Linked DNA regions of Homo sapiens. The protein of the gene in region 6 purifies or fractionates together with the protein of the main gene of each other region. This does not show direct contact. Each region holds a gene or a part of one and is shown on either strand. Other genes may lie near its edges.

Region 1 (4,586 bases), on a different chromosome or scaffold from region 6:
GTCTCAAACTCCTGACCTCAGGTGATCTGCCCACCTTGGCCTCCCAAAGTGCTGGGATTACAGGCGTGAGCCACCACGCATGGCCAGGACCACCCTTTTTAGCTCCTGGGCCCTCCGCTTTATGTCCACTCTTGGCTTGTTGTCAGCGGCAAGGTCCGATGTCTGCTGCGGAGCCCGTGAGTGATGGCCATTCCTGCCGGCATTTGGTGTTGGCACTGACTCTCCTAGCTGTGGGGCCACCTACAGCTGCTTCTGCTTAGCGAATTGTGACATGTACAGATCTTTCCACCTTCCTCACCTTTGGCCACCACTTCCTTTCCCACCCTGGGCCCAGAACGTGTGGGTCATGGGCTGAGTATCAGTGCTCACTTCTGGCCATTGCCCAGCATGGGGAGAATGGGCCTCTTCCACGAGGAGCCTGGCATGGCCCCTGGGGTTACAAGGTGCCATGTCTGCCTCTCCCTGGGTTGGTGGCAAGCTTCGTTTTTATTGGCCCTGCCTCCCGGGTATTCTGCCCAGCAGCCAAGCTTTGAGGCTGACTTTAGCCTTTAGGTGCTTCCAATAAGGAATGCCTCCAAGAGGCATTCTTAGGCCCATGGCAAAAAGTGGTATGGGCTAAGGTGGCCTCTGCATCACGGGTAGGCTGTAGGGGATGAGCATAAAAAGCAGCTGAGGCAGGCAGCCAGCTACCATGGGAAGACAGAGATGGCTGGTCTCCCAGGCCCAGGTTAATCACTGGGGGGCCACTTACTACCATGGCAAGGGCTGTGACGACAGCAGGTGAGCACAGGGTTTGCCTTTCTCCCCGCAGGGGTCTTCACGGCTCCTTATGATGGGCGCTACCTGATCACGGCCACCCTCACCCCCGAGAGAGACGCCTACGTGGAAGCAGTGCTGTCGGTCTCCAACGCCAGCGTGGCCCAGCTGCATACCGCTGGGTACAGGAGAGAGTTCCTGGAATACCACCGCCCTCCAGGAGCTTTGCATACCTGCGGGGGCCCGGGGGCATTCCACCTCATCGTGCACCTGAAGGCGGGAGATGCAGTCAACGTCGTGGTGACTGGGGGCAAGCTGGCTCACACAGACTTTGATGAAATGTACTCCACATTTAGTGGGGTTTTCTTATATCCTTTCCTTTCCCACCTCTAAGGTGGCTGGGGAGATGTCAGGGGAAAGATAGATAGTTGTAAAAACTCTAAAGCTTTAATATATTCGGTTTGTATGTAATGGAAGCACGGGGCTAGAGTTTCCACATAGGCCCCAACATAAAGGCCTTCCCTCGCTGTTGAGGCCACCATGCCTTACTGCATCCAGCCAGGCTGCAGGGAGTGAGGCACACGGTGAACATGGCCACTGACTTTTCTGCCACTCTAACTGGACAACTGGAAGACTTGGAAAGGCCTCCACCTGTATCTACACTCTGAGGGCCCTGGACTGGGCCTGAGCTTGCCACAGAGGCTCCGTCTGACTGTGGGCTGGGAGGAGGGAGGCAGGGGAGAGCCGGTCACGGTGGCTGGTCTTTACTGCAGGGCAGCACTGTGGCCAGCTGTCTGTCTTTACACTGCATGCAGAAGTTTAAACACTGAAGTGCCGAAGTGGCCCGTGCCGCCGCACAGAGACCCCGACTTTAGTTTGGGCTGTTCCACGCTTGGCTCACCATTGCCGCCTGGGACTTAACCTGCTCAGGCGGGCCTTCGCCCAGCTGCAAATAGGGATGCGTTAGAGACTGTTCCCAAAGCTTGTTGGGCTCCTTAAATGGCATGTACAATTTAAGTGCAAAGACAGGGAGTGTCAATAAAGATGGAAAGCCATTTCCAGTTAACTTTTGTTAATTTAAGTGTGGTCCCTTACAGATCGGGAGTTGTTGCTAAAAAGCAAACTGAAGAAATGTTTTGTTTCAAAAAGGGCTACAGAAAGTAACCTTGAGTAAAATTAATCTCAGCTACAAAACTGTTACCCCTCCGCATCCAAGCTATACACTTGGGTTTTGTTTCTGGCTTGTGAAGACGGACCAGATGTGCACGGAGGTCAAGGCCCCATGTCATCTGCAGCTGGAGCGGCTCCTCTGGGGATGCTGCACTCAGATCCCACAGCAGCTGCCCAGGCTAACTTGATCCCTGCTGCTTCACTGCACCAATCTCCAGCAGACACAGCTCGCCGAGCTCTTGGGTTTCTAAGCAGCAGGAAGCTCAACCTAACGCTGGCCACACGCTGACAGCTGAGCCCATCTGAGAACACGGCATCTTCACACAGCGAGACGCCTCCACTGAGGGGAGGCCCGGGAGTATCAATCTGTCACCAGTGGCCACGGAGACCTCTCAGCACCCTTAGTTCAAGGTAGTCTCTGTGGATCAGGTTGGTAACACCTACTGGTTAATCAAGTCCCACTGGGGAAAGGTTTGGACGGTAGAATCAAGAGCTGCAGTTTCCTTGGCCCACAAGATGCTCTTATGCTGTAAAAAAAATGCTTTAAGAATTGTTTGCAAATGAATTTACAGGGTGGCCACTGGACACTTCAGAGTTCCTTATTTACTCCCCCCGCCACAGCTAGGAAGACCAGCAAGAACTAAAGGTTTGCCGTTTTACTATTTAAAATGTGGACCTCTTTGTCCAGGAGCGGGAGGGAGAATGGCATCTCACCCCATTACAACAGCTGGGGAACTGGCTAAAGAGAGCTGTCAGAGAGTATCCTTGGCTGTCCTAGGAATGACTCATGGAAAGCGCCCCAGTGCAGCAGTGTTTTCAGGAAAACCCAGTGGGCACGCGCCATCGCCCTCTCCTCTCCTCTCACGCTCCTTTTGAAAAGACCGCACTCGGCGCCCAAGGGGACGTGCTCAAGAGCTGCAGGGGCAGGGCCCAGGCAAAAGGTGGGTGATGACTACCTGCTGCTTTCCCTACTCCGTAGATGGGTCTGGAACATCGGGTAAAACCCAGTCCTCCTCTCAGTGCATCTCTACTCACCAACAATGGTGAATCTCAGCTCTGTGTATTCAAGACAGGCAAAACAGAATATGCCTCATTATGGCTGGAGCGTGCCTCTACTTTGAGATAAAGCTGGATGACAGGTGGATCCTGGCCCACTTAGGAGACATCTTTAGAAAGGGAAAGGCTGTCTTTTTGTACAGGTAGTAGAACAACAAGGTCAGCTGAGCTTAAGGCTGTGGGGTTCGAAGCAGCCCTTCAAGAAGTCATCACCCCTGAAGTAGTGCCTGCGAGTCAGTCAGAGGCATACCAAACCCTGAGACAGAATCAGGCACAAGTTCACAACTTTTTTTTTTTTTTGGGGGGAGACAGTCCTACTCTGTCGCCCAGGCTGGAGTGCAGTAGCGCGATCTCAGCTCACTGCAACCTCCGCCTCCCGGGTTCAAGCAATTCTCCTACCTCAGCCTCCCGAGTAGCGGGGACTACAGGTGCATGCCGCCACGCCCGGTTAATTTTTTGTATTTTAGTAGAGATGGGGTTTCACCGTGTTGCCCAGGCTGGTCGCGAACTCCTGAGCTCAGCCAATCCGCCCACCTCGGCCTCCCAAAGTGCTGGGATTACAGGTATGAGCCACCACGCCCAGCCAAGTTCACAACTTCTGATATCAAGTTGTTGCTGAGAAAAGGTCAGGACACTTCTTAAGTAGAGAAGGACTGTGACATCCCCTCCAAACCTCCATGTAACACTAACAAATGGCCTCATTTACACGATTAAAAACAAAATGGTATCGTCAATAAATGCAAACCTTAAACTGCATTTGAAATTACTTCCTGGTTGGCATGTTAATCTAGCTTTCCCAGGTGACTAATTTTCTCACAGTTTATGTATTTGCAGCTTGACAGGGAGTATTTGTGATTGGAGTCACTTCGTTCATGCCTGTAAGCTTGGAAACCCAGCTTTGCACATATCCAATCCACACCACAGCCCCTTTCTAAAGATAAATGTGTATTTTCCTTATGCCATCCTATAAACGGGAAAGAAAATGGAAGGACACATGCCAACTCCAATGGGTGCGGGGCAAAACAGAGAGAAGCCACACGCAGGCACGTCCTCAGAGCTCAGGTATGCAAAGTTCACTGCTCCCCTGAAGCCCTCAAAGCTGCTCTGGGTAAAGACCATTTCCTTTGTAACCAATTTCCCTGAGCTCTTCTTTTGCATTCCCAAAGACCCATGGTTGCCATCACGTCATGCAAACAAACATTTCCATCCTGAACACACGCTCCTGTGGAGGGCCTTTGGGATGCAGGGTTCAGCATATGCTGCATCTGGTAAGGGCCCAGCAATCTGAGAGGACAAAACATCACCATGTAAGTAATATATGCGATGTGGTTTTGATCAAAGGTCACTCTGACTCTGTGATGAAAACATCAGGATTGACTGCTAAATCATACCCACCCTAAGGAAGGGTTTAAGGAAAGGTGGGGTGTCCAGGGGCTCTGGACAGGACTCCCAGGGAATTCAAGTGCTTAGGGAGAGGAGGTAAACACAGCCTCCTGGACAGCCGTGAGACCACAGCAGAAGTCACATATGGATGGGTCATTTCCTGGCAGAAGGTACAAAGCAAGAGGTTAGTTCCTGGGGGTGTAGCTGCACTTCTGAAGCCA
Region 2 (4,588 bases), on a different chromosome or scaffold from region 6:
AAGCTGCATCTGCCTGCCCTGTAGGACAGGATGGATGTCACTTCCATCTCAAGCGATCGCTCGTCGAAATTAGAATCAAATTTTAAAATGAGCTGAAACTTTTTGCTTCCACTTTAGAGTTTTCCTGATTCTCTGTGCTTCCAAATGTGAAGTTTCTACCTCTAGCGAGCAATTATTTTGGTCTCCTTGACTGCTCTGTGAATCCCATGAGGACAAGGCATCAAACTACCAGAGTGCAGAGATCCTACTTGATTCCCTTTATATCCTTCCAACCCCAAACACAGTGCTTTCCTCCATATTAAGTTTCAATGGGTGGCTCACGCCTGTAATCCCAGCACTTTGGGAGGTCGAGGCGGGTGGATCACCTGAGCTTAGGAGTTCAAGACCCACATGGTGAAACCCCGTCTCTACTAAGAATACAAAAATTAGCTGGGCATGGTGGCGGGTGCCTGTAATCATAGCTACTGGGGAGGCTGAGGCAAGAGAATCCCTTGAACCTGGGAGGCGGAGGTTGGGTTGAACTGAGATCCCGCCATTGCACTCCAGACTGGGCGACAGAGCAAGACTGTCTCAAAAAAAAAAAAAAAAGTTTCAATGAACTTTTGATGTAGGAATTAGAATATCTTTAGTTGGTAGAAATCCTCTCTCATTTTAGGGGAAACATCATGTGTGCTCCGTGGAAAAATCACCCCAAGTTCTACATTTAAACTTTGCAGATGTAAGAGTTGGGCAGGAGCACAGGACCCATGAAAGGCCTTATATCACAATTTCTCAATAGTTTAGATATTCAGTTACATTTCTTGCTGCCATGACTGCCCTTTCTCTCCATTGACTCATACAAAATACTTGGGCTTTGAATTATTTGAGGGCATTTTATTATATTGTATCAGGCTTTTCTGAATGTACCTGGTTAGCATAGTGCTTGACACAGCGTGTTCTAGGAGCTTAAAGCTGTTGTTGAAATAAATAAGACACAAATGAATTATTTTAGATAAAAAAAGGCTTTCATTTCTTGAAACACTTACCTCTTTGGCATTTATTTCCACCGAGATCAGTGCAATGTTTCATATTTTGGAAGAGATGAAAAAAGGGCTCCACTTATCCTCTGTTCAATTTATATGACCATCCAGAAGCTATACCCCTAGTGACCACAGAAATACAGAGACAGACTAATAAGAATATAAAATACAAGGCTTGGAGTAAAAGGCAAGGCCACATTTAGGACATGCGTCATGCAGGGGTCACAGAGGCTCATGTATCCTCCCCAGAAGGCTGTCTACACGTAGGTGGGTGGATGTTGAGGGTAGGGAGGGGAGTTCCTGTTGTTCCTACTCCTGCTCAGTGATTCCTGCCCATGGTCCTCATAAGGTTCATGGGGGCTGTTGTTGCAAGATCATGGTGGGTCCCTGAAGCCCCTCTACTGACCTTTGACACTAAACTCTTCTTTTACTCCTGACAATTCGCCCAAACAACACAGAAGGCAGAGAACTCTTGCATCTATTTGCCCTTTCAGTAAGAAGCCTCTAATCTGTTTTAGCATAAAAAATTCATTAAGAATGTACTATTATTTCATCAGTGAAATCCTTAAATTTTAAATTAAATCCATAGGTCTGGTTTAGCAACCGCCGTGCAAGATGGAGGAAGCAAGCTGGGGCCAATCAACTGATGGCTTTCAACCATCTCATTCCCGGGGGGTTCCCTCCCACTGCCATGCCGACCTTGCCAACGTACCAGCTGTCGGAGACCTCTTACCAGCCCACATCTATTCCACAAGGTACCGAGGAAGAGTCAAGGAGATTAGAAAGTAACTTCCAGGCGATTTCTCTGGTGGATATTTTATACAAGTGAATCCTTCTGCAGTACTGACACCATGTTGTTAATTGTAATACATCAGGTTGTCCTGAACGTACCTATCACATTTCAGAAACATAGTTTGTTCTATGATGTATCAGAATATCTCTAGATAAACTGTGCTGTAATATAATTCAATTGCAGTATTTTAAAACAAATTAACCTTCCCAAATAACCATGGGATTTGCTTTTCTTTTGTTAAAATTTTACCTCTACGTTTTACTCCAGTTTGCAACTAACTGGAATTCAATGATGCTTACTAACTGTAGGAATAATAGAGGGAAGGTAAGCTTTGACAAAGTCATTATTTGTTAGCACACAGAGGTGAATGGGATAATGTTAAATTGTAAGATCCGATTATTTTGGATTATGAAAGAACATTCCAGGCATTTGAAACTATATTATTACACAAATATTTAGGTGCTTTAAAAGTATATTTGATAAGAAATTTGAGACTTGCAGTCCTTATATTGGTTAATTCTCATATTGATGAATAACATTCACTACCAAAATATGCTTGTTAGCATTGCTAATATGATTTCTGCATTAGTATTCTGGGTGAGCCTGCCGTGAGAGTATATATGTTACTTACAAGTATGTGCAGAGATAGGTGTGACTGTATCTGTTATGGGTGATTCTACACCTGCAGGTTAAGAAACGCAGTTTGAAGTGAACATTTGATTTGATCAATAGATGCTCCTGATGGCCTGGTGGCTGATGAACTTTTGCACTGAACTTTCTCTGCTGGCCTAAAAGAAAACATGATGGTTGACAATCTTTTTCATTTCAGCTGTGTCAGATCCCAGCAGCACCGTTCACAGACCTCAACCGCTTCCTCCAAGCACTGTACACCAAAGCACGATTCCTTCCAACCCAGACAGCAGCTCTGCCTACTGCCTCCCCAGCACCAGGCATGGATTTTCCAGCTATACAGACAGCTTTGTGCCTCCGTCGGGGCCCTCCAACCCCATGAACCCCACCATTGGCAATGGCCTCTCACCTCAGGTCAGTCCCGTGTTTCTAGACAGACGATTTGCTGTATACCAGAACCAAATATTCAATTCCCTGAGGCAGTAGTGTAATGAATTGCCAAATTTAAACCATAATGTATTCTTTATAGAAGCCACATGATTTCAGTTTTCTGGTTTCCTTTCTCTCCACCCTTCCTACTGGCTTCATCAAAAGTTGTAGCTTAGACTTAAAATTCAAGTGATTTTTGATATAATCTTGGAGACTTTGTGTTCATATTTAGCTGTGAAGGTGTTTGCCATGTTTTGTCTTCTCCATCCTAGTTCTGGGCTTTGGTTAAGAAGCTTGCAAACAGTGGCAGGTTTTTTGTTTTGTTTTTTTGTTTTAAATTGTATTTAAAATTGATAAGGTTTCAATCAATTGATAAGGTTTTAAATTGATGAGGTTTCAATCAAAAGCACCTCATAAGAAAACACTAAAGCTTTGACAAAACAATCAGAGAGGAAGCAAACAAGTCCTGTGGAGAGAGACCCAGCTGATGACTACGAACTCTGGAATAAACGAGTTATAAATGCACAAATTAGGGGAATTACTGCTCTTTGGGACTATATAAATATTTGAATGTTGTAATTGTTTTTCTAATTTGCATTGGACTATGAGCTTTTCTTAGGAGATCACATTAATAAATTGCCTTGATAATTGCATGTGAGAGGGTTGGTTAAATTTCCTACATGTGGCATCTGTCTGAGGTTGACATTATTAGCAGTTGTTTAAATACAGATCCCTTGATTTTATTAGAGAGTGCTTGGCCCAGGTGGCAAGGATAGCTGCCCACTAAATTTGGAGAAATGTCACAAGGGGTTGCAATCTATAATTGCAATCGAGAATCTCTTCAGAGAGTTTGAACAGCTTTATCTGTTCTCAACCCCCTTTTTCCTCTTGGTGGTTAGAAAAACAGAGAGAAGCTCAGAATGACACAAATGAAAAGTGAAAAGACAATTATACTCAATTACACACTAATCACTGACTATCACCGCTGCCTAAGCACCAAGAGGGCATTCTAATAGGCAGAAAATGAGATTTTAATGGCACAAAGGGTGGCCAAAATAACGACTCGTATATCTTTGCCTCTTCGTTTTCTTCAACTTGTGGTGTGTGTCTTGGGAGTGGAATTCCTGGGCTCTGCAAGACAGTGATAACTGTGAGCAGCTGAAAAGTTCAAAGCCGGAGGAGTTGAAAAGAATGGATAGCAAAGGCAATGAAATAAACATTTCCGCCTAAAGGCAAAAGTTCATAAATCCTTTTTTGTAACAGTAAATGTAATTAAGTTTCATAGATTCCTATAGCACATCCTGGGATAAAAAAAAAATTATGAGGTGGCTTTAAACCTCAGCTGAAAAATAACAACATGAAAACAATGAAAGTGCTTCCTACAGGACTTTAATACATTTTATTTCCAAGTACTGGCATTTGTGAATGTGATTTCTGCATGAAAATCATGGACTTATATTGATAGAGTCATCCTTAAAATACCCAGATTCATGGCATATGAGCTTCTTCCACAACTTAGAAGTAACATCAGAAGTACTTATCTCCGCGATTTTTTAAGATTTGTAGTTTTGGGGGCTGTAGAAAAGCTTTTCATGAACATGATTTGGTTGAAAGTTTTAATAAAAGTAAACTCCTGCCCTAGCTGCTTCTGCAAGGTGAGATCCCAGATTCCATTGGCATTTCTTAGTACCTTATTTTATTCAATAGCAATAAAACT
Region 3 (4,588 bases), on a different chromosome or scaffold from region 6:
ATAACTGTAAATAATAGGTTTTCAGGCTCCAAATATTGGTTATTTGTTGGTTAATATTTGTTAGCTAGTGTTAGCTATAGTGGGGTTATTTTTAGCATAAAAACAAAGGTGAACGGTAGGTGATTCTATTTCTTATTTTGAGAAAATACTGTAAGAGGTAATCTAACCTGCTAATTTCGTCCTATTTCTCAGCTTTCTAGGACTGGGGCCTGACCATTGAGTCTTCCTGAGTTTTCCTTCTTGACTCCTTTTGCTCCTTGTCCCCATTAGCTCCAGAAGATGGTCTCCAGGGCATTGGCAGCAGTGAATTTGCCATCTTTCTTCCACCTGGTACTTCTCCCTGGTTCTTAGGCTCAGTGGATGGCACCACAGAGTTGCCAAAGGCAGAAACCTGGGAATGGTGCCATGATCTTCTCTTTCAGCACATATTTAGTTAGGCTACAGGACTGTTGATTTCTTCTACCCTTTCTCTTCCTTTGGTTAGAGTTGCTATAATCTCTTGTCCTGGATTATGAAACAGCCTTCTAGTTGGTCAGTGGCTTTCAGCTTCATTCCTCTCCAATCTATTTGGTACACTGTTACCAGTGGTCTTTATAAAGCACAGATCGGAATATGTGATTCCCTTGCTTTAAAACTCTTGGATGGCTTGCCTGCCCTTAGGATGGTCCAGCAAGTGCTACCCTCCAACTGTGGCTGTGCCTGTCTCTCAAGCCTCTGAGCAGCCCCTCCTCCCACAATTCACCTTATATTGAGCACCAGTTGAAATCTCTCAGTGGCCACAGGACTTCATCCTTTCTGGGGCCAGTGGGCCACATTCCAAGGCTTCAAGGCTGCTCCCTCTCCCTGGACTTCCCTGCTGCTGGTATCAACCAGGCCAGTAGCAATGCCATTATCTACACTGACCTTTATATTACTGAATGCTGTTTGGGTTTTCTGTTATTCCTTTTTTCCTTAGAATATATGCTACTTGAGATGTGTAGTCAGATATTGTCTTAAAGTCACTTGATGTAATTATCTTCTGTGTAGTTGTATCACCAACTTCATAAACAGGCTCTTTTTCTTGAATACTTTTTTAAAAAATTAATTAATTTTGAGAATGGATTAGGAAACTGGCCAATTTTTATGATTTTTGGTAGAGATGGGGTTTCACCATGTTGCCCAGGCTGGTCTTGAACTCCTGGCCTCAAGCAATCCACCTGCCTCGGCCTCCCAAAGTGCTGGGATTACAAGTGTGAGCCACTGTGCCAGGCTGTCATTGGTTTTAAACTTTAAGGATTGCTATTAAAAATTAAATTCCTTTTTACCAAGAAGTTTTTATTTCATACCTAAACCCTTCTTCTCTGTTTCTCCTGTCTTGCTAACAAAGTATGCTGTTAAAGTTTTGGGGTTTTGCCAATCTGTCAGGTAAGAAATAATATTTCAGTATAGCTTAAATTTGTTGTTTCTTTTTATGAGATAAAGGATATATCATGTCTGTGATACAGATTGCAAATATATTTTTCCAGTTGTCATATGCTTGACTTTGTATATATTGTTTTATTTCTATCCAAGTTTTATATCTTTATATAGTTGTGTTTCTCAGTCTTACCGTGTATTGCTTTGGATTTGCAGTCATAGTTAGGATATTTGCCCCACTCTCAATTTATGGAGCATCCATTTATATTTTCTTCTAGTACATGTAAGGCTTATGATTTCACTTTTTAAAAAACATTTAAGACTCTGATCCATTTGAAATTTATCTTAGTATTTGGTTTGAGGAAGGATCTGATTTTATCTTTATCCCAATGGCCAGTCAGTTGTCTCAACAGTACTTATTAAAAACTTTTTTCTTCACTGATTTGAGATGCTGTCTTTATTGAATACTAAGCCTTTGTATGCATTTAGATTTCTTACTGGATTTTCTGTTTTGTTCCATTGGTTTGATTGCCAATTCATATGCTGTTACAAAATCATCTTAATTTTAGAGGCTTTATCATTTAACATCTGGAAGGGCCAATTTTTAAAATATTGCTCTTTTTCAGGGTTTTCCTGGCTGTTTTTGCTTGTTTATTCTGGCATATGAACTTAATAATCAATTTGTCTGGTTTCAAGAGGAGATGACTTGATGGTATTTTTATTAGGATTGTGTTACATTTTATAAATTAGCTTAGGGAGAACTAGCATCTTTACCATATTGACTCTTCTATCCAAGATTATGGTCTGTCTTTTCATTTGCTCAAAGCTACTTTGGTGATTTTTCAGGAGTGTTACATGTTTTTCCTTATATAAAATCTGTATGCTTCTTTTTCAGTTTATTAGACCTTTATTCTTAACATTTAAAAAATAATAATTCTGTTTAGAATCCCTCCAGAAGATCCTAGAGAAGTTCTACACACCCACATATTCCAAACATTTTGCATGCGACTTCAAATTATTCCTTGATACCTCCCCCCTTAAAGCTCATCCTATTATATTGTTCCCTAAATCTCCTTCTTTTGTCCACCTTCATCTCTTTCTCACTCTCACCTCTTAGCACTGTGTCCTGCGTACAGTTCAGTCAGAACATATTTGCTGAATGGATGAATAAAGTAGTGAGGGGAGAATGAAGGTGGGTGAAAGAGTGAGAGCCCGTTAGACTCTATTTGGAAAGGTCATCCTTGTTGTATTTCTAAGTCTGCAGCCATTGATTCACTGGGTCATAGTACTTGGTTCTCCTCTTTCCTCCATTCCAAAACTTTTTTAAAAGTTCTGGTGAACTTTAAAATTTTCATAATATTAAAATATAATAATTCATGTCTTAACATTATATGACATTTCACATCATGTTGATAATAATAGTTACCATTTATTGAACACATACAAAATACCAGGCAGTGTACTAGGTATTCTACAGTATTGTTTCATGTAACCCTCACAACAACTAAGCAATAGGTATTATTACTGCCGTTTCTAAAAATTAAGAAAATTTGCAAATATAAAAGTGAGAGTAGCATTATGAGCTCCCATATACTTGTTAACTTCATTTTACCCTTGAGAAAACAGGTTTTGAAAGGTTAAGTAACTCAAGGTTACAAAGCTAACGTCAGATTTAGAACCCAACTCTTTATAGCTCCTTATTAAAAATTGTTTTTCAAACTTTAGGCTCTAGCTGGCCAGGGAAGAGCAGAAGGAAAGGAGAGAGTCAAGACCCACTCTTCAAACTAGTATAGTATTATAGAAGACTCTAATAGTAGTCTTCCCATCTACGAATTCACACCCAGATACTTCCTTCTCTACTCACTGCAGACAGTAAACCCTCCCATCTTTCCCCCTTTACTGCTTCTCATGTGCTCTTCTCACTCTGTCTTCTATTTCTCTAGTTGTATTACTACAATCTGATATTGGTTGGTTTTCAAAGGCTTGCCACTGTTTTGAATACTTACCTCCTAGTATGATGTCGTGAACATAGTGGGAACCAATATATTTAAATTAAATAACAATGAAACTTGCTCTTAATCATTTAGCATATAAGTTTGGCATGGTACTTGTTACTTTTGAATGTTGCTCTGAAGGCCTGAAGTCATTCAGTTTGACCACTCTAGACACAAGCTGCTCATTCAGTTGGTACTCTGCTGTCAGTTCTCCTCAGTTGTAGTCAGGTTAAAACCAGAGGGAGACTGGCTAAGGTCAGAGTCCAAGACAGCAGAATAATTGGCCCCTAGAGTTCCGTTGTTTTTTTTTTTTTTTTTCTGGACAGTAAAATGTTGAGGATGAAATTTCCGTATATTCCTTTGAACATTTTTGAGCAAATACTATAGAATCCCATAGGCTCTTTCCCAACATTAACAGCAATAGAGAAGTTATCCTCTTTTACGTTTTTTTGTTAGCTCCTTAAGTTAACCCTCTTGACATACTCCCTGGTGATGGAGGGAAATAGAGAGATGAAAATAATTCCCACTTCTTCAAAGACAAAAGAAAAAGCTTATAACACTAGGAGGAGACGAGAAAGGAGTTGATCTGTGAAATGTACACAGAGGGGTACTGAAGGCTGAGTGATCTGAGTAGTGTGATAGGACAGTGTTGCTGGAAGTTGGGGGTCTGTAGTCTCTTCAGTGCTCTGGTACTTAACTACAAAAGTGTGAGGAAAGAAGGATTTAAGCTGAAAGTGGTCTCTTCTTCCCAGCTGTGCCATAAGCTCCTTGAGAGCAGGGATTATGCTGAATTTCTTCTCTGTGTAGTGCCAAGCCTCAGTTAAGGTCATTCGGCTGAGCTCAGTGACAATCTGCTGGATTGACAAGCACATCTTTTTCGCTGATAGGGCTGGGACACAGCCTTGGGGTCACACTGGGGCCACATGGGCTCCCACATCCTTCAGCTGCCCTGTTACCAAGGTGCACAGCCTTGAACAAGTAGGAAGTGGCAGGGAGGGTTGAGGAATGTGTGTGCGGTGTCTCACCTGCACAGAATAAGTAGGCTCTACATCTCCATTATCTGTTCTTATTTAAAAACCACTTCATTAATAGGGTATCCTTGTAATGCCTCTGAACAGGGAAGTTATCAAAAAAGTAGGAGAAAGAATCTAAGGTTAAGAACTTCACCACTTTTTAAATTTTAAAGTTTGGGCAGTATC
Region 4 (4,588 bases), on a different chromosome or scaffold from region 6:
AGCTCCTCTCCTTTGCAGGTTGGGGAATTTGTGATGGTGGATAACTCTGTTCTGTTTTGTGTTATCTGGATTTGACAGATTAACGCTGAATCCTTTGGGATAAGTTTGGCAACATCTAGAAGTAGTCAGATATGATCTTTTGTTTACTGAATAGTTTATTATGGAAAAAATACTGAATGACATCTGAAAGTGATAGATACTCATCTCTTTTCCTAAGGATACTAATCTGTACTCCTAGGTCTCTCTCATGATCTCATGTAATCCCAGTTATTTCCCAGAGTTGCTGCCCGTAATATTAATACCATCACCTTAGGTGTTAGGATTTTTTTTTTTTTTTTGAGACAGAGTCTTGCTCTGTCGCCCAGGCTGGAGTGCAGTGGCGCGATCTCGGCTCACTGCAAGCTCCGCCTCCCGGGTTCACGCCATTCTCCTGCCTCTGCCTCCCGAGTAGCTGGGACTACAGGTGCCCGCCATTACGCCCGGCTAATTTTTTGTATTTTTAGTAGAGACGGGGTTTCACCGTGTTAGCCAGGATGGTCTCGATCTCCTGACCTCGTGATCCGCCCGCCTCGGCCTCCCAAAGTGCTGGGATTACAGGCGTGAGCCCCCGTGCCCGGCAGATATTTTTCAACGTATGCTTTTTACATCATAATCATTTTATTCACGAGACATTTTCAGACTTCAAGAAAAATTTCAGTAGGCTTTGTTCTTTTCTAAAAATTGACTTCAACGGCTTGTAACAGCAATTCAAGATGAACTGAGGGCAGGAACACTGGCAAACACCTGTAATTCTAGGTACTTGAGAGGCTGAGGCGGGAGAATCGATTTAGCCCAGGAGTTCAAGTCCAGCCTGGGCAATATAGTGAGACCCCCATCTTAAAAAATGTGTGTGTGTATATATATATATATATAAATTATATGTATGATTATATATATATTTATAAGTTGTATGATTATATATATTTATAAATTTTATGTATGATTATATATATATTTATAAATTTATTTATTTTATTTTTTTACTTTCGAGACAAAGTCTTGCCCTGTTGCCCAGGCTGGAGTGCAATGGTACAATCTTGGCTCACTACAACCTCCGCTAAAGTGATTCTCCTGCCTCAGCCCTCCCCCACGCCCGGTAGCTGAACCCGGTAGCTGAATCCTGAGTAGCTGGGATTACAGGTGCCCTCCACCACACCTAGCTAATTTTTTTTAGCTTTAGTAGAGACAGGGTTTCGCCATGTTGGCCAGGCTGGTCTCGAACTCCTGACCTCATGGTCCTCCTGCGTCGGCCTCCCATAGTGTTGGGATTACAGGCGTGAACCATCACATTCAGCCCTATATGCATTTTAGAACGGGCTTTTTTTTTGGCGGGGGGGGTCTCTGTTGCCCAGGCTGGAGTGCGGTGGCACGATCTCAGCTCATTGCAACCTCTGCCTCCCAGGTTCAAACGATTTTCCTGCCTCAGCCTCCCAAGTACCTGGGATTACAGGCACCTGCCACCACGCCCAGCCAATTTTTTGTATTTTTAGTAGACACGGGGTTTCAACATGTTGGCTAGGCCAGTCTGAAACTCCTGAGCTCAGGCAATCCTCCCACTTCGACCTCCCAAAGTGTTGGGATTATAGGCATGAGCCACTGTGACTGGCTGGTATTTTTATTTCTGAAAAAAGAAAACAAAACAAAAAAAACCAGACATGGGATTTTGATAGGGATTGTATTGAATTTGCAGATCATTTTGGGTAGTAGTACCTTCCAAATAATGTAAAGTCTTTTTTTTTTCTTTGACACAGAGTCTTGCTCTATCACCCAGACTGGAATGCAGTGGCACGGTCTTGACTCACTGCAACCTCCACTTCCTGGTTTCAAGCCATTCTCCTGCCTCAGCCTTCTGAGTAGCTGGGACTACAAGCGCATGCCACCACGCCTGGCTAATTTTTTTTTTTGTATTCTTAGTAGAGATGGGATTTTACCATGTTGGCCAGGCTGGTCTCAAACTCCTGACCTCAGGTGATTTGCCTGCCTTGGCCTCCCAAAGTGGTGGGATTACAGATATGAGCCAATGTGCTGGCTTTTTTTTTTTTTTTTTTTGAATTGGAGTCTTGCTCTGTCGCCGAGGCTGGGGTTCAGTGGCATGATCTCGGCTCACTGCAACCTCCACCTTCTGGGTTCAAGCAGTTCTTCTGTCTCAGTCTCCGGAGTAGCTGGGATTACAGGCACGTGCCACCACACCTGGCTAATTTTTGTATTTTCAGTAGAGACAGGGTTTCATCATGTTAGCCAGGCTGGTCTTGAACTCCTGACCTTGTAATCCACCCACCTCGGCCTCCCAAAGTGCTAGGGTTGCAGGCATGAGCCACCGCACCTGGCCAAATAATGTAAAGTCTTCGAACACATGAACACAAGATATTTTTCAATTTGTCTTTAATTTCATTCAGCAACATTTTGTTGTTTTTAGTGTACAAGTAGTCTTTCGACTTCTTGGTTTTGTAATTTCTAAGCGTTCAATTCTTTTTTTTTTTTTTTTTTTTTTTGAGACAGAGTCTCACTCTGTCGCCCAGTCTGGGCTATTTGGTGTCCTGGGTTTTATATTTGTTGAGGCTTTTTAAATTATTATTATTATTATTATTATTTTGAGATGGAGTCTTGCTTTGTTGCCCAGGATGGAGTGCAGTGGTGCGATCTCAGCTCACTGCAACCTCTGTCTCCTGAGTTCAAGCGATTCTCCTGCCTCAGCCTCCCAAGTAGTTGGGATTACAGGTGCCTGCCACCGCGCCCGACTAATTTTTGTATTTTTAGTAGAGACGGGGTTTCACCATCTTGGCCAGGCTGGTCTTGAACTCCTAACCTTTTGATCCACCTGCCTTTGCCTCCCAAAGTGCTGGGATTACAGATGTGAGTCACCGCGCCTGGCCTATTCAATTCTTTTTGGTGCTATTGTTTGTGGTATTGTTTTCTTAATTTCTTTTTCACATTATTCAGTTTTGGTGCATATAAATGTAGCTGACTTTTTTGGTCTTGAGACAGTCTACCTCTGTTGCCCAGACTGGAGTACAATGGTGTGATCTCAGCTCACTGCAACCTCTGCCTCCTGGGTTCAAGTGATTCTCCTGCCTTAGCCTCTCGAGTAGCTGGGACTACAGGTGTGGGCTACCACACCTGGCTGATTGTGTATTTTTAGTAGAGATGGGGTTTCACCATGCTGGTCAGGCTGGTCTTGAACTTCTCACCTCAAGTGATCTACTCGCCTCGACCTCCCGAAGTGCTGGGATTACAGGCGTGAGCCACCGCACCCAGCCCCATTGTTTTTCATATTTGAACCATCCTTGCATTTTGCGGATAAATCTCTCTTGATGATGTCATATAATCCTTTAAATATGCTGTCAGGTATGATTTGCTAGCATTTATTTGAGGATTTTTTGCATTGATATTCATAAAGGGCATTTGTAGTTTTGTTTTTTGTAGTGTCTGTCTTTGGTGTCAGCATAATTTTGACCTCATAGAGGGAGTTTGGAAATGTCCCCTCTTCAGTTTTGGAAGAGTTTGAGGAGGATTGATAGCAATTCTTTTTTAAATTTTTGGTGGATTTCAGCAGTGAAACTATTTGGTGTCCTGGGTTTTGTATTCGTTGAGGTTTTTAAAATTATTATTATTATTATTTTGAGATGGAGTCTCGTTTTGTCGCCCAGGATGGAGTGCAGTGGCGCCATCTCGGCTCACTGCAACCTCTGCCTCCCAGGTTCATGCCATTGTCCTGCCTCAACCTCCCCAGTAGCTGGGACTACAGGTGCCTGCCTCCATGCCAGCCTACTTTTTTGCGTTTTTAGTAGAGACGGGGTTTCACCGTGTTAGCCAGGATGGTCTCAATTTCCTGACCTTGTGATCCACCCTCCTCTGCCTCCCAAAGTGCTGAGGTTACAGGCATGAGCCACCGCGCCCAGCCAATTTATTATTTTTCTTAATTTATTTTATTTTTTTGAGATGGAGTTTCACTCTTGTTGCCCAGGCTGGAGTGTAATGGCATGATCTCGGCTCACTGCAACCTCCGCCTCCCGGGTTCATGGGATTCTCCTGCCTCTGCCTCCCAAGTAGCTGGGATTACCGGCGTCCACCACCATGCCCAGGTAATTTTTTGTATTTTTAGTAGAGACGGAGTTTCACCATGTTGGCTAGCCTGTCTCGAACTCCTGACTTAAGGGGATCCACCCACCTTGGCCTCCCAAAGTGCTGGGATTACAGGCATGAGCCACCGTGCCTGGCTATTTTTTTTTTATTACTATGCCAATCTCCTGCTACTACAGCTCTGTTCAGATTTTTTGTTTTTTCATGACTCAGTCTTGGTATATTGTGTATGTGTAGACATTTGTCCACGTAATCAGTTATATAATTTACTGAAGTATTCTAAAGGACTTCTGAAATTAAGCCTGAGTTGTACAGTTTTTTGTCCTCTGCTGTATGTATGTATTCTGCTGCTGTTGCTGTGAGTGTAAGGGGTGAGGTGAGGGGAATCATTCTATTGACCTATGACTTAGCCTCATTTAAAGATAATAGGCCGGGCACAGTGGCTTATGCGTGTAGTCCCAGCACTTTC
Region 5 (3,678 bases), on a different chromosome or scaffold from region 6:
AAAAATTAGCCGGGTGTGATGGTGGGCACCTGTAATCCCAACTACTCAGGAGGCTGAGGCAGGACAATCACTTGAACCGGGAAGCAGAGGTTGCAGTGAGTTGAGATTGCACCACTGCACTCCAGCCTGGGTGATAAGAGTGAAACTCTTGTCTAAAAAAACAAAAACACAAAAACAAAAACAAAAGCATATTATTGGAGCAAGAAAGGCTTGGTTGGAATATTGATGCTGACTTTGTTCCCTTCCTAGGCTTGCATTCAGAAAATGTGCATAAATATATTAGTCTCATTAGACTCGTAAAGGAGCTTTTTAAAAGTATTATACAGCTTGCTAAGAAGTAAATTTACATATTTTAACTGAGGTACATAATGGAAAACAGTGTCCAGTACATCACAGGAAATACTTCAGTGTTCAGAGAATAAGTAAGGCAAAAACAGGTCCACAAGTCCAGGAGCCAGCCTCCGCTCACTGCAAGGCCAAGTCTTACGCTGTTGGAGAGAAACATGTCAGACACCAGCAATGTGAGACCATGCTCCTAGGTGGCTATGATGAATCAAGACAAAAAAAGGGCATTCTGTAACCATGTCTTTAAAACTGGTGAAAGACAGCATGTTCCAAATCATAAACATGACCCAAATTCCCCTCTTCTCACTAATATGACTGAGTGGTATTTCTCATGAATTACGTTTACCTCCACTCCATTCCTTTTCCCTTCTGGATAAGAACAGTTATGATTACCAAGTTTAGAATTAAGTTTACCTCATCACTGCATCAAATACAGAGAATCATCTTGCTTCCCTGAACATAAATCAATCAACCTGGCCAGGTGCGGTGGCTCATGCCTGTAATCCCAGCACTTTGGGAGGCCGAGGCAGGTGGATCACGAGGTCAGGAGTTTGAGACCAGCCCGACCAACATGGTGAAACCCCGTTCACTACTAAAAGTACAAAAATTAGCCGAGTGTGGTGGTGTGCACCTGAAATCCCAGCTACTCTGGAGGCTGAGGCAGGAGAATTGCTTGAACCTGGGAGGTGGAGGTTGCAGTGAGTTGAGATCGCACCACTGCACTCCAGCCTGGGCAACAGAGCAACACTCTATATCAAAAAAAAAAAAAAAATAGAAATCAACCAACCTATAACAAGCACAAAACCTGTAAGAAATTCTTCTGAGCACCCTCTTACTGATACATCACACAGTCCTTTATGGTTTGTGGTCATGATTATTATTACAGTTTATTACACCCTCTTTGACAACAGGTATGGTCTCTGCGGTCTTTAGCAAGAGAGCACACAAAACAGCATGACTTAACTTTTGGTATTATGAGTAGATGAGAAATTACTATGAAGATAAAAGTTGAAACTATATAAGCATGAAAAGTAAAATTTACATGAGGAGGAAAAAATTCCTTAAGTTGTATGCACATGGTTAACGCTGACTTCACAGTGTCTTAACAATTTGCCAAAATTATAAACTTGATGTAATCCAAGACTGAAGACAGTTAATAAACTGTTTTGAAGAAACATGTACAGAAGTCTTGTTTGAATAAAAAATACATATTAGTCACATATAATCAAACAACTGAAAATGAACTGAGGCATTACATTGAGCTACGAATAACAGGAAACACTTGAAATTTCCTGATAGAGGAAAGTGCTCATTCTCACATCAAAGTCCTGGGTGAGGCCAGTCACTGCACACTACAGCAGAAGAACAAGCTCCCCTCTGGTTGGTTTTGACAGCAGCATGGTAGCTATCAGGCTGAATCAAGAATACAGTCACTACTAGTATGAACAAAGGTGCTTACTACACAAATTAGACCGTATGCCAATTCCGTCTACAGACTAGGGGAGTCAGAGCATCACAGAATATTCCCAACCAGGACAGTCTGAATTAGTTGCCTAGTACAGACATAATAATGTCTGAAGGAAAACCAAAGTGTGGATGGATATTCAATGCAGGGCTTCTGGAGACCTGTGTGGAAGCCTATCACCTCCGAGAAAATTAAAGTCAAGTCGTTTTGAGGATACTCTTGATTGGCAACCCAAAGAAGCAGGAAAATGGGATGGAAGCAAGTGTCCATACAGCCTGTATTCACACAGCTGTCTCCCTGTATGGTGCTTCCAAACCATGACTAATGCCTTCTTAACTTACTTCCGAATCTCATGTAAGATAGGTTACTGGTGAATTGTATCATGGAATCACAAATGGAATGGATTCTGGGAAATCTAGTTCCTAACCTACCAACACTGACATAACACAATCCAGAGATCCAACTCCAACTCTAGGTTTTACTGTCCTATCACAAGTCTCTCGTAATTTAAAGCCAATTATCTTACAGGGTCTTTCTCCACTGTGAATCCTTTCACGTAGTTGAAAGAAACAGAAAGGACTGAAGGCTTTCCCAAATTTCTTACTTTCATGGGGTTTCTCTATGTGACTCCTTTCATGCTCATGAAAGAACTGGGACAACTGAAGCGTTAGGGTTAGGGTTCTCATAGGGTTTCTCTCCAGTATGAATTTTTTCATGTACTCGAAAGTAAGTGGATCGACTGAAGGCTTTCCCACATTGCTTACATTCATAGGGTTTCTCTCCAGTGTGAGTTCTTTCATGGATTCGGAAGTAACTGGAACGACTGAAGGCTTTCCCACATTTTGTACATTTATAGGGTTTCTCTCCAGTGTGAATTCTTTCATGTTTTCGAAACGAACTGGAACAACTGAAGGCTTTCCCACATTGCTTACAATCATAGGGTTTCTCTCCAGTGTGGGTCCTTTCATGGATTCGAAATGAACTGGGGAAATCAAAGGCTTTCCCACACACCTTACATTTATAAGGTCCATTGCCAGTGTGCTTTATCATGTGTCTTCTAACACTTGCAAGACAAGTCAAAGCCTTCCCGCATTCCTTACATTCAAAAAGTTTCTCTCCGGTGTGAGTCCTCTCGTGACTTCGAACAGAACTGGCGCACCTAAAGGCTTTACCGCACTGTTTACATTCGTAGGGTTTCTCTCCTGTGTGAGTTCGTTCATGGATTCGAATGTACTTGGAACAACTGAAAGCTTTCCCACACTGCTTGCATTCATAGGGTTTATCTCCAGTGTGAGTCCTTTCATGTATTCTAATGTAACTGGAACAACTGAAGGCTTTCCCACATTGCTTGCATTCATAAGGTTTCTCTCCAGTGTGACTTCTTTCATGTATACGAAATAAACTGGGATAATCAAAGGCTTTCCCACACACCTTACATTTGTAAGGTACACCTCCCCTATGCGTTAACATGTGTCTTCGAATGCTTACAAGAGAAATAAAGGTTTCTCCACATTCCTTACAATCATAGGGCTTTCCTCCAGGATGAGTCCTTTCACGTACTGGAAAAGAGCGATGATAACTCAAGGCTCGTCCACACTGGTTACGTGTATATGACTTCTTTCCATATTCCTGATATTCATTTGGTTCACGTCCAGTGTGATCTCTGATGTGCCTATTAAGTGATGAAGGACCCATGCCAACTTCTCCACACACACTGCTTTCACACGGTTTTACTCCAGGAGTTTTCTTGTTCAGAATACCATCTGGAATCTGGCTGAAGGTTTCTTCACCTTGACCACCTTCTTTACTTTCACAGAGTCTCTCTGGAATATGACTTGTCAGAAAAATGAGAAGTACATTATTAATGT
Region 6 (4,588 bases):
TTGTTCAAATAATTGTTGAAACAGGGGTGTTGACGTCTGCAACTGTAATTGTGGATTTTACCATGTATTCTTTCAATTCTATCAGTTTTTGCTTCACATATTTTGCAGCTCTGTGTTTTCGGTAATACACATTGAGAATTGCTATGTCTTCTTAATGGATTGATTTTTTTCATCATTTTTATAGCATTTCTGTTTGTCTTTGGTATTTTTTGGCTCTGAAATATATTTTTCTGAAATTAATATAGCCATTTCTGCTTTCCTTTGATTAATAGTTTCAATATATATTATTTTCTATTTGTTTACTTTCAAACTGCCTAGACTGTTATATTTGAAGTGAGTTTCTTACCAACAGAATATGGTCATGGTTTTTAATCCCTTCTGCTAATCTCTTTCTTTTAATTGATGCATGTAAACTATTTACTTTTAATAAAATTATATGCTTGAGTTTAAGTCTGCCACTTTATTTTTTATTTTATGTTTGTTCTCTCTGTTTTATTTTTCTGTTTTTTTTCTTACCATGGGTTACTTGTTTTACAATTTCATTTTATCTGTATGTTTATGAGTGTGTCTCTTTGTATAGCTTTGTAAGTGGTTGCTGTAGGTATTCCATTATATATACATAACTTATAACTGATTGTTCGTATAGTCATTTTACCAGTTTGAGTGATGTATAGAAATTTTAGCTGTCTTTATGTTTCTTTACCCTCACTCATTTATAACATAAATTCTTTAAATATTGTTTAACATACATTTAGGACACAGACTCTTTTGCTTCAATTTTGAGCTGTTGCTTCAGTTGTCAAACATACTTTAGAAAAGAGGAGAAGGAAAGCTTATTGTATTTACCCATTTTTCTTTTTTACATACTATGTTCTTTCTACCTTCCTGATGTTCCAAAGCTTTTTATTTTATATTTTTCTTTCTGTTTAGAGGTCATTATTTTGCTGTTCTTTTAAAATAGGTCTTCTCATGATAAATTCTCTTAGTTTTCCTTTATCTGAGAATGTCTTGATTTCTCTTCATTCCTGAAGGATGTTTTTGCTGGGTATACAATTCTACGTGTACAGCTCTTTTTGCTTTTGTCACATGAAAAATATTTTACCACTTCTTTATGGCTCCCATGGTTTCTACTGAGAAACACACTGTCACTCTAATTTTTCCTTGTACTTAATGTGCAAGATTTTCTCTGTCTACTTTCAAATTTTTTCTTTGTTTTTAGTTTTCAGAAGATTAATTATGATATGGCTTGATATGAAGTTGAAAATTGTTTTGAGTTTATCTTGTTTAGGGTTTCCTTAGATTCTTGAATCTGTGAGTTTATATCTCTTGCCAAATTTGGGAGGTGTTCAGCCATTATTTCTTCAATATTGTTTTTTAAGCTCGCCTCCTTTCTCCTCTCTTTCTCGGATGCTAGTGATACAAATGTTAGATCTTTTGTTATAATCTCACAGCTCTTTAAGACTGTTCAACTTTTTTTTCAGTCTATCTTCTATTTGTCACATTGGATGCTTTTTTTTCTGTCTTCCAGATAACTGATTCTTTTCACAGTCACTTCCATTCTGCTGTTTAGCTTTATCCACTGAGCTTTCATTTCCATTATTGTATTTTTTTGGTTCTGAAGTTTCTATTTGGTTTTAAATTTTTTTTCCCATTTTTCTTTTTCTTTATTGAAACTTTCTATTTTTTTCATTTAAGTCTTTTCATAATTGTTTTTGTCAGTGCTGCTGTAAAATATTTGTTGGGTAATTCTAACATCCTTATCATTTTAGTCTTGATATCTGTTCTTTTTCTTTTTACAATCTGTTGGAGATTTCTTTGCTTCTTGGTATAATGAATGATTTTTTACTGAAACCTGGACATGTTTGTATCATGTTCTGAGACTTGAATCTTATTTAACCCGCCTGTTTTAGCCAGCTTTCTCTGACACTGCTTTGTCAGGGGAAGGGAGGGTGCCATCTTGTTACTGCCAGGTGGAGGTAGAAGTCTAGATTCCCCACTTGCCTTTGTTGACAGTTGAGGGGGAAGCTTCTTTTATTTCTGAGTTGGGGGAAGTTTCAGCTTCCTATATGGTTTCTGCTGGCACTGTGGCGGGGTGGTTTCATTACTGCTGGATGACTATAAAACTCCTGACTCCTTAGTAGGCTTCCTTTGATACTATCCCAGCGGGGAAAGGGAAGTGTGCTTCATTACTTCCAAGATGAGATGGAAGTCCAGGCTCCTCATTGTATGGTCTTCACTAGTGCTGTGGGGGGCCTCATTACTGCCTGGGAGGGTTAAAATTCTTGGCTCTAAACTTGGCCTTCTCTGACACTATTCTGGTGTTACATGCCTCATTTCTGCTTGAACAGGGTAGAAATATAAGCTTCTTACTTAGCTTTTGTTTGGCATGGTTTGGGATGGGGCCAGTTTTTTCTGTGATGTTTGACTGGAACAGAGAGATTATTATCTAGCAGTTTCTGTCTTGCTAGACTGATCCTTTCTTTGTTCTTCAGCTAGAGAAAGCAGGCTCATCTTGAGGATTTTTTAGGTCTACATTCATTGATATTTCCAGATTGAAGCCTTCTTTAGCTCCAAGTCCAGGATATATGACACAAAATGGAAACCCATTGAACTCACTACCATATTGTTCCTTGGATCCTGAATATCTTTTTTTCTCTATCTTCTAGATTCTTCTGTGTTTGTTTTGTATATGATGTCTAGTTGTACTTAGTGGGAGAACTAGGAAAAGTACATCTATTCCATCCCGTAGACAGAGATCACTTCAATCGTTTTTGAACTTTATTTTTAATGTGTCCCATGTGGCTCTTCTCTCTGCAGGTACCTGGAACTGGAAAGTAGTGGCCATCGGAATGAAGTCAGACTGCATTACCGCTCAGGCAGTCACCGCCCTCACACAGAAGTGTTTCCTTACATTTTGGCTGATGACAAGTGGCACAAGCTCTCCTTAGCCATCAGTGCTTCCCATTTGATTTTACACATTGACTGCAATAAGTAAGTGTAGTGTCCTCATTTTAGGAAATGGAAGATTCTAAGAAATGACTGTCTACTCACGTTCCTTCTTTGATGTTTCTTTTTTGCAGAATTTATGAAAGGGTAGTAGAAAAGCCCTCCACAGACTTGCCTCTAGGCACAACATTTTGGCTAGGACAGAGAAATAATGCGCATGGATATTTTAAGGTATCTTTTGGCAAAAGTCTGAGAATGAAATGTAAATGCTTTCTAATGAGTTTCAAAAAGTAGATTTTACTTTTTATGGTGTGAAACAAAATAATTTGATTTGTAAATTAGAAAATTTGTGTCTGTTTCATTTTTTTAAACAGTAATATTTTAGCCAGCAAACATTATTTTCTCTTCTTTTTTCAATGAGTTTAATTGTTAGATATTACAGAAATGATCACAAGGCTGCAATCAGGGCAGTTAACAGGTCATTCTTTGAATTAACCTTTCAAAGCAATAAAAATCTAAAATGTTAACATACAAATAAACTCTCCACCACTGAAATATAACCTTTGATGATACTTTTACAAAGATGTTAATAGCGGATTGAAAGCTTTTTAGTATATATTATTCATGGTCTCCTTGTACTGCAGAAAGTGAGAAAGGAATACACATATGTGCACAAATCTGTCAAAAGAGAAAGCAGTTATAATTTATATCTTTTCCTTTAATATGTACTTGGAGACAACACTTCATAGAATTTCTTCATTGGAGAGGCTCTAAGGGACATGTCATTTAACTTTCCATATTTTAAAGATGAAGAAATAAAGTCCAGAGAATTGCTTGACTACAAGCCCATAGTGCAATCATTTTCCCCCAGTGGCTATGACAGTCCCTACAACATGGAAGTGGCTCGATGAATGATTACCAAATCAAACAATGATAAGTGATAGTTCAACTCATAGATTTCAAGGTAGATCACATACCAGTGAATTTAATTGTTTTCTAAGCAAAGTTTATAATTCTATAAAGGTGTTTTGGGAACTTATTTAAGCATTGCCTGTTACCAGGAAACCAGATACTTGAAATATATGATTCCATCTAATAGTAGCCTTGCTAGTCTTGATGCAGGGTCATTTTTTATTTCTGTTTTATTATGCATAAACCTGCACAGAGGGGTAAAGTAACTTGCTTAAAGATAGGCAAATAGTAAGTGACACAAATAGGAAATTGGTTCCATGCTTGCAAATCCTAAAACCATGCGCTTTTCCCAGGTAAGGGATAGCAGATGTGTGCTGTGAGTCCCAAATCTCATCTCTATTTAATCGTGACAGTCCTTCCCATGGAGCCTAAGTGTGGCCTCAAAATCTCCACATGTCAATTATGTGTACAACTCTGGGGGTCATTCTCTTTATTGTAGTCCATAAATAGTATCCATTAGAGTTGTACAGTGCATAAACTATATAACCGTACACGATAGCCTTGTTTTTATGTTGCTGCTTCTAAGTGATAGGAGTTGGTACACAATTTATTTCATCAATCTAGGCCCAAGCACACACTGGATCCAGTAATACCCACACAGTAAAAATACTTAAATATTTATCGTTCACATTGATACATGCTATTAATCAGATTAAACATGTACAAGACA
Region 7 (4,588 bases), on a different chromosome or scaffold from region 6:
CACTGAAGGCCACTGGGCCTCCTCATGCCCAGGTCTGTGCTCTGTGCTTGAGCGCCTACAGGTGGAGGACAGCATCTGGGGACTCACCCGCCATGCTCACAATACGAGTGGACACATTCCCGGCTGCTCTTGTCCCACAGCTTAACAGTCTTGTCATCACTGGCAGACACGATGAGCCGCCCGTCGGGGGAGAACCTGAACCGGGTGGGGCACAAGTCACATCACAGACTAACAGACGACATGGGCACCACACACCTTCTTCCACAGCCACTCTTCCCCGAGTGCCTACTATCTGCCTGCAGGAACCACCCGGGGTCACATGCCCTGCTGTGATTTTTTTTTTTTTAATTTGAATACCCTAATTTGTCTTTTCAGGAACAAATGCATTGCATCCTAGGAGGCAATGTTACTTCTGTTTATTTGGTCATATCTTAAATTATACTTTGTTTCTGAAAATAGTTAACTTTTAGCACATCATTTTTCTTTTTTCCTTCTGAAGAGTTTTTCAGGAAACTGTGACTAAATTTTGTTTTTGTTTTTGTTTTGTTTTTTAGACAGGGTATTGCTCTGTCACCCAGGCTGGAGTGCAGTGGTGTGATCTCAGCTCACTGCAGCCTCTACCTCCTGGGCTCAAGAGATCCTCCCACCTAAGCCTCCTGAGCAGCTGGGACTACAGGCGTGCACCACCACACCCAGCTAATTTTATTTTATTTTATTTTATTGTAGAGATGGGAGTCTCACTATGTTGCCCAGGCTGGTCCTCTAACTCCTGGAGTCAAAGGATCCTCCCACCTCATCCACCCAAAGTGCTAGGATTACAGACATGCACCTTCAAGCTCGGCCTATGACTTAATTTTAAATGTTATAAAAATGTTTCCTTTATTTTTTTCTTCCTGAATCTGTGAAACTTATTGATCTTTCCTGTTGCTCTTGTTTTCGTTTTCTTACGTAGCTTCATGAGCAAATAGCCCCTCTCCCATCCCAACAGCAAACTCTGACCAAAAGGGAAAAAGAGAAATTCTTCCTGACTTAGAGGAAAACCAAACATAAATAAACAAAAAGAAAAGAAAAAAAAAAAGGTGCCTGCCTCACGAGTGAGCACAGAGCAGCCTCATGCACATAAAGCCCCAGCACTGCCCCTGACGCACAGCACATGGCAACATGCAGCCGACTGCCTGCCGGCAACATTTGCATAAAGGTGGCCAAAAGCTCACCATCAGTGTCATTACTCTGGGACCAGGTCCTCCGAGTCTACATTTGACTCAAGTGCGGGTCAGCAAGACACAATCTGCCAACAAAAGGCATGAGGTCCTGGGGACTGCCACCAAAGGCCCAGTATGGACTTGACACCCCAGTTTGCTGGCCTGGCCCCTCCTGATCTCAGGACCCTAGTCATAAAGCCTCTAAGAGCCATCAGGGGTCTCCCAGGACAAAGGAATGGGGGTGCCCTGGAGAACAGTAACTTGTATGGGGTCCCCAGAAGAACACAGCTCAATAGTCCCCAACTTCTGACTCATGTGGTTTCCTAATGTCACCTGGCACCCCAACCCCTTCCTCTGAAGCAAAGATATTTGACCCATGGGGAAGCTCTGTTGAAAGGAATGAAATAAGCTAGAAGTAGGACTATCTGTCTGCAATTCTTGGACCTTGAAAGGTCCTTTGGGTTACCTGGCCCGCTGTCTGCACAGCACTGGCTCCCTGGCCAGCAGGAAGGCTAGCCTCCAGGCTAAGCCCCCCATCTCCGAAGCCTGCGCCCCCATCTGGGAGCTCTGGAGCAAAATCATCCCCTGAGAACATCCCAGAGGAAAGTAGGCAAGCCTTACTGTCAGAGAGAGTTGGGTTCAAACTCCAGCTCTGCCACAGACCCACCGTGTGCTCTGGGACAAGATACTACTGTTCTGAGCCCCCATTTCCTCATCTGCAAAATGGAAATGCACCTAGCTTGCAGAACTGTCTTAAGGAACAAAAAGAAAATGTGTAATGGTAGTACTGAAAGTACCTAATTGTTTTTGATAATAAATGGCCCCTGTTGACCCAGTTTGTGCTTTGCCAACACAGATGTCAGAGGGTCATCATGGCTGACTATGGACTAACTTACATGTCATGCATCAGCTCCATGAAGCTTCTCGACAACTTACAATGCAGGAGCTATTATTGTTCCATTTTACAGATAAGGAAACCGAGGCTGAGGAAGCTTAAACAATGCCTAAGTAACTTGCCCGAGGTCATAAGTTGGTACCTAGCAGCCCCTGGGCCAGCCCCCAACCCCCAGGGTTCCTCCAAGGGTCTCCAGACAGAACAATGCTCACTTGGCACAGCGGACCCAGTTGATATGCTGGCTCAGGGAGAACAGGAATTTCTGGCGATGAGTTGCCCACACTTTGACTGTCTTGTCGTCAGAGGCTGTCACGAAGGACTGGCCATCACTGCAGAAGTGGACACTCCTCACTGTGGCTGTGTGTGCACGAAACACAGTGGACTCACCTTTGCTACAAGGACAGGCATCCAAGAGTAAGGAAACCCATAACAGTGACATGAGAGCCCACAAGCACATCAAAGCTCTCCTACTCCTCAAGCACCCCTCCCAAAGTCAGTCAAGCCCGAGTACCCCAGTCTCCACAAGGGAAAGCCAGAGCCTCTCCTATATGAACAGAGCACCATCTCTAGGCCCCACCCACATGAACACAGCATCAGGTGGCATTTCTTTAGGGATAGATTGGGTAAGCCCAGAACTCCTCTTCCAACCCTGAGGGGAGGGCTCCAACTGCAGCCCCAGCCTCTGATGGCACCTCTTCCAAAGCAGAGTAGAAGTCCCACTGTGACCAGTCCAGAGCCAAGCTAGGGGACCTGGGTGGGGATGGCTCTGGCACCAGGGCCCCAGACTCCAACAAGCCTCCTCAAAGTGTACGACTCACACATTGGGTACCCAGATGCGGACAGTCTTGTCTCGGGAGCCGGAAGCAAGCAGGTGTCCCGAAGGAGAGAAGTTCACACAGGTGACGGCATCCTTGTGGCCAGTGAAGCGGTAGGCGCGTGACTGCGGCTTCATGTGCCAGACCATGAGGCATGAGTCCATGGAGCCACTGGCTGAGGACAGTGGGTGATGCTATGACCTACAGCTCTAACAGGCTTCAAGCCTCCACCAAGACATTGGAGAGGCAGGGGGAGCAACTGGCCCAGCTCCATCTTCCCTGGCATCCACAAACAGACCGTGAGAAGTCTCCCATGGAGCAGAGCACATCTCGAGGTATGGTCTGGAGGTGGAGAGCCTGTGGCCCAGAGTTCTCCAAGGAGCACACCCACATGGGAATAAGACCGAGGCCCTTCCCATGCTAGCCTTGGACTGCAATCCAGAGCTCTGGGAAAACTCATTCCCATGGGGCCCAGGGTCTCCCCCCAGACACATCCTGAGGGCACCAGAGAGCAAGTCCTCCCCAGCTGGGAAGCCAGCCCCTCCCATTGAGAGGGCCCAACTCAGTATGAAGCCTAAAGGAGGTCCCCAAAACTGATCAAAAATCACTTCAGTTCCCTCTTAACCTTTACACATCAGAGGGTCTTGATGACAGGATGAAGGGGCAAGCCTCCTCTGCAGGAACCAGAAAGCGCAGTCATAAAAGCTGTGTACGAAACCTCATGCAACCAAGGAAGGGGGACAGTCAGCTGCAGCATAAGAGCAGTGGGGTCGAGGGGGGTGCCCATCTCTGCTCAACAGCCTTCTCACTGACAAGGCTCTTCAACAAGGTGTGCCTTATTACTGTGGGCAACAGAATCAGTAAAGCTTCAAGGAAAAGGAGTCACTGTTTAGGGCCCACACCAAAAGACAGACCCAAAAGGTGGCTAGGGTGTGCAGAAAAGACCCAGATCCCAGTCCCACCCTCAAAAGCTCTGTGGCCTTAGCAAGGCCCCTAACCTCTCTGACCCTCAGGCTCTGCATGTAAAATGAAGCTCATGAAGCCCAGTGCCCAAAGAGCTGGCAAGCAGAAGCAAGACTAGAAGCAGGTCTAGACAAAGCTGTGCAGTCCTTGTGCTCTGCTTCCCACCCACCACCCCTCCGAGGTAAAAACTTGGCCTGTTCAGCTCATAACCTAGCACCTAGACAGGGTGCCTCTTCTTACCCAGCTGCTTTGTGTTGATACTGAAGTCCACACAGGTAACTGCATCTCGGTGGCCCTTAAAATGCCTTTCCAGCGAGGGGTCCTCCTGAGAGAGAGCCAGGGTCAAATGTGTGAAGCCTGGGTGAGGAAGGGGCTTCCCCAGGGCCAGCACTCTTCCTACAACAGCCGGGGGAGTAGGGTTAAAAATGCTCAAGGCATGATCTTATATAAAGAAAATCCTAAGGAATCCACTTAGGATTAGTTTTTACTAGGAATAGTTTTTACTATTTGAATTAATACATCAACTGTGGAAATGCTTCAACAAAAACAAAAAACAAATGAGTTCAGCAAAGTTGCAAGATACAAAATCAAGACACAAAAATCAATTGTCTTTCTGTACACTAGCAATGAATAATCCAAAAAATAAAACTATTTATGATACATAAAAAAAATAGCAATATTTTAAATTAGCCGGGCATGGTGGCAGGCGCCTA

Evidence for each region.
Region 1: the proteins of NELL2 (region 6) and EMILIN2 purify together in Homo sapiens (affinity purification with mass spectrometry; 2 studies listed by BioGRID and IntAct, with this or other methods). This does not show direct contact.
Region 2: the proteins of NELL2 (region 6) and PAX3 purify together in Homo sapiens (affinity purification with mass spectrometry; 2 studies listed by BioGRID and IntAct, with this or other methods). This does not show direct contact.
Region 3: the proteins of NELL2 (region 6) and ZBTB40 purify together in Homo sapiens (affinity purification with mass spectrometry; 2 studies listed by BioGRID and IntAct, with this or other methods). This does not show direct contact.
Region 4: the proteins of NELL2 (region 6) and ZNF101 purify together in Homo sapiens (affinity purification with mass spectrometry; 2 studies listed by BioGRID and IntAct, with this or other methods). This does not show direct contact.
Region 5: the proteins of NELL2 (region 6) and ZNF627 purify together in Homo sapiens (affinity purification with mass spectrometry; 2 studies listed by BioGRID and IntAct, with this or other methods). This does not show direct contact.
Region 7: the proteins of NELL2 (region 6) and POC1A purify together in Homo sapiens (affinity purification with mass spectrometry; 2 studies listed by BioGRID and IntAct, with this or other methods). This does not show direct contact.

Annotation. Positions count from the first base shown.
Region 1 is NC_000018.10:2,912,256-2,916,841, forward strand, and holds the end of EMILIN2 (EMILIN-2 precursor), read left to right. Parts: intron 1-811; coding exon 812-1,149; 3' UTR 1,150-3,748; downstream 3,749-4,586. UniProt on the Homo sapiens protein: May be responsible for anchoring smooth muscle cells to elastic fibers, and may be involved not only in the formation of the elastic fiber, but also in the processes that regulate vessel assembly. Has cell adhesive capacity.
Region 2 is NC_000002.12:222,218,408-222,222,995, reverse strand, and holds part of PAX3 (paired box protein Pax-3), read left to right. Parts: exon of another isoform or gene 1-1,608; coding exon 1,609-1,774; exon of another isoform or gene 1,775-1,910; intron 1,911-2,443; exon of another isoform or gene 2,444-2,600; intron 2,601-2,641; coding exon 2,642-2,856; intron 2,857-4,588. UniProt on the Homo sapiens protein: Transcription factor that may regulate cell proliferation, migration and apoptosis. Involved in neural development and myogenesis. Transcriptional activator of MITF, acting synergistically with SOX10.
Region 3 is NC_000001.11:22,457,640-22,462,227, forward strand, and holds part of ZBTB40 (zinc finger and BTB domain-containing protein 40), read left to right. Parts: intron 1-4,588. UniProt on the Homo sapiens protein: May be involved in transcriptional regulation.
Region 4 is NC_000019.10:19,671,180-19,675,767, forward strand, and holds part of ZNF101 (zinc finger protein 101), read left to right. Parts: intron 1-4,003; exon of another isoform or gene 4,004-4,019; coding exon of another isoform or gene 4,020-4,121; intron 4,122-4,224; exon of another isoform or gene 4,225-4,588. UniProt on the Homo sapiens protein: May be involved in transcriptional regulation.
Region 5 is NC_000019.10:11,616,661-11,620,338, reverse strand, and holds the end of ZNF627 (zinc finger protein 627), read right to left. Parts: intron 3,645-3,678; coding exon 2,450-3,644; 3' UTR 1,178-2,449; downstream 1-1,177. UniProt on the Homo sapiens protein: May be involved in transcriptional regulation.
Region 6 is NC_000012.12:44,778,252-44,782,839, reverse strand, and holds part of NELL2 (protein kinase C-binding protein NELL2 isoform b precursor), read left to right. Parts: intron 1-2,817; coding exon 2,818-2,991; intron 2,992-3,080; coding exon 3,081-3,177; intron 3,178-4,588. UniProt on the Homo sapiens protein: Plays multiple roles in neural tissues, regulates neuronal proliferation, survival, differentiation, polarization, as well as axon guidance and synaptic functions.
Region 7 is NC_000003.12:52,146,901-52,151,488, forward strand, and holds part of POC1A (POC1 centriolar protein homolog A), read right to left. Parts: intron 4,272-4,588; exon of another isoform or gene 4,201-4,271; coding exon 4,116-4,200; intron 3,088-4,115; coding exon 2,916-3,087; intron 2,490-2,915; coding exon 2,310-2,489; intron 196-2,309; coding exon 88-195; intron 1-87.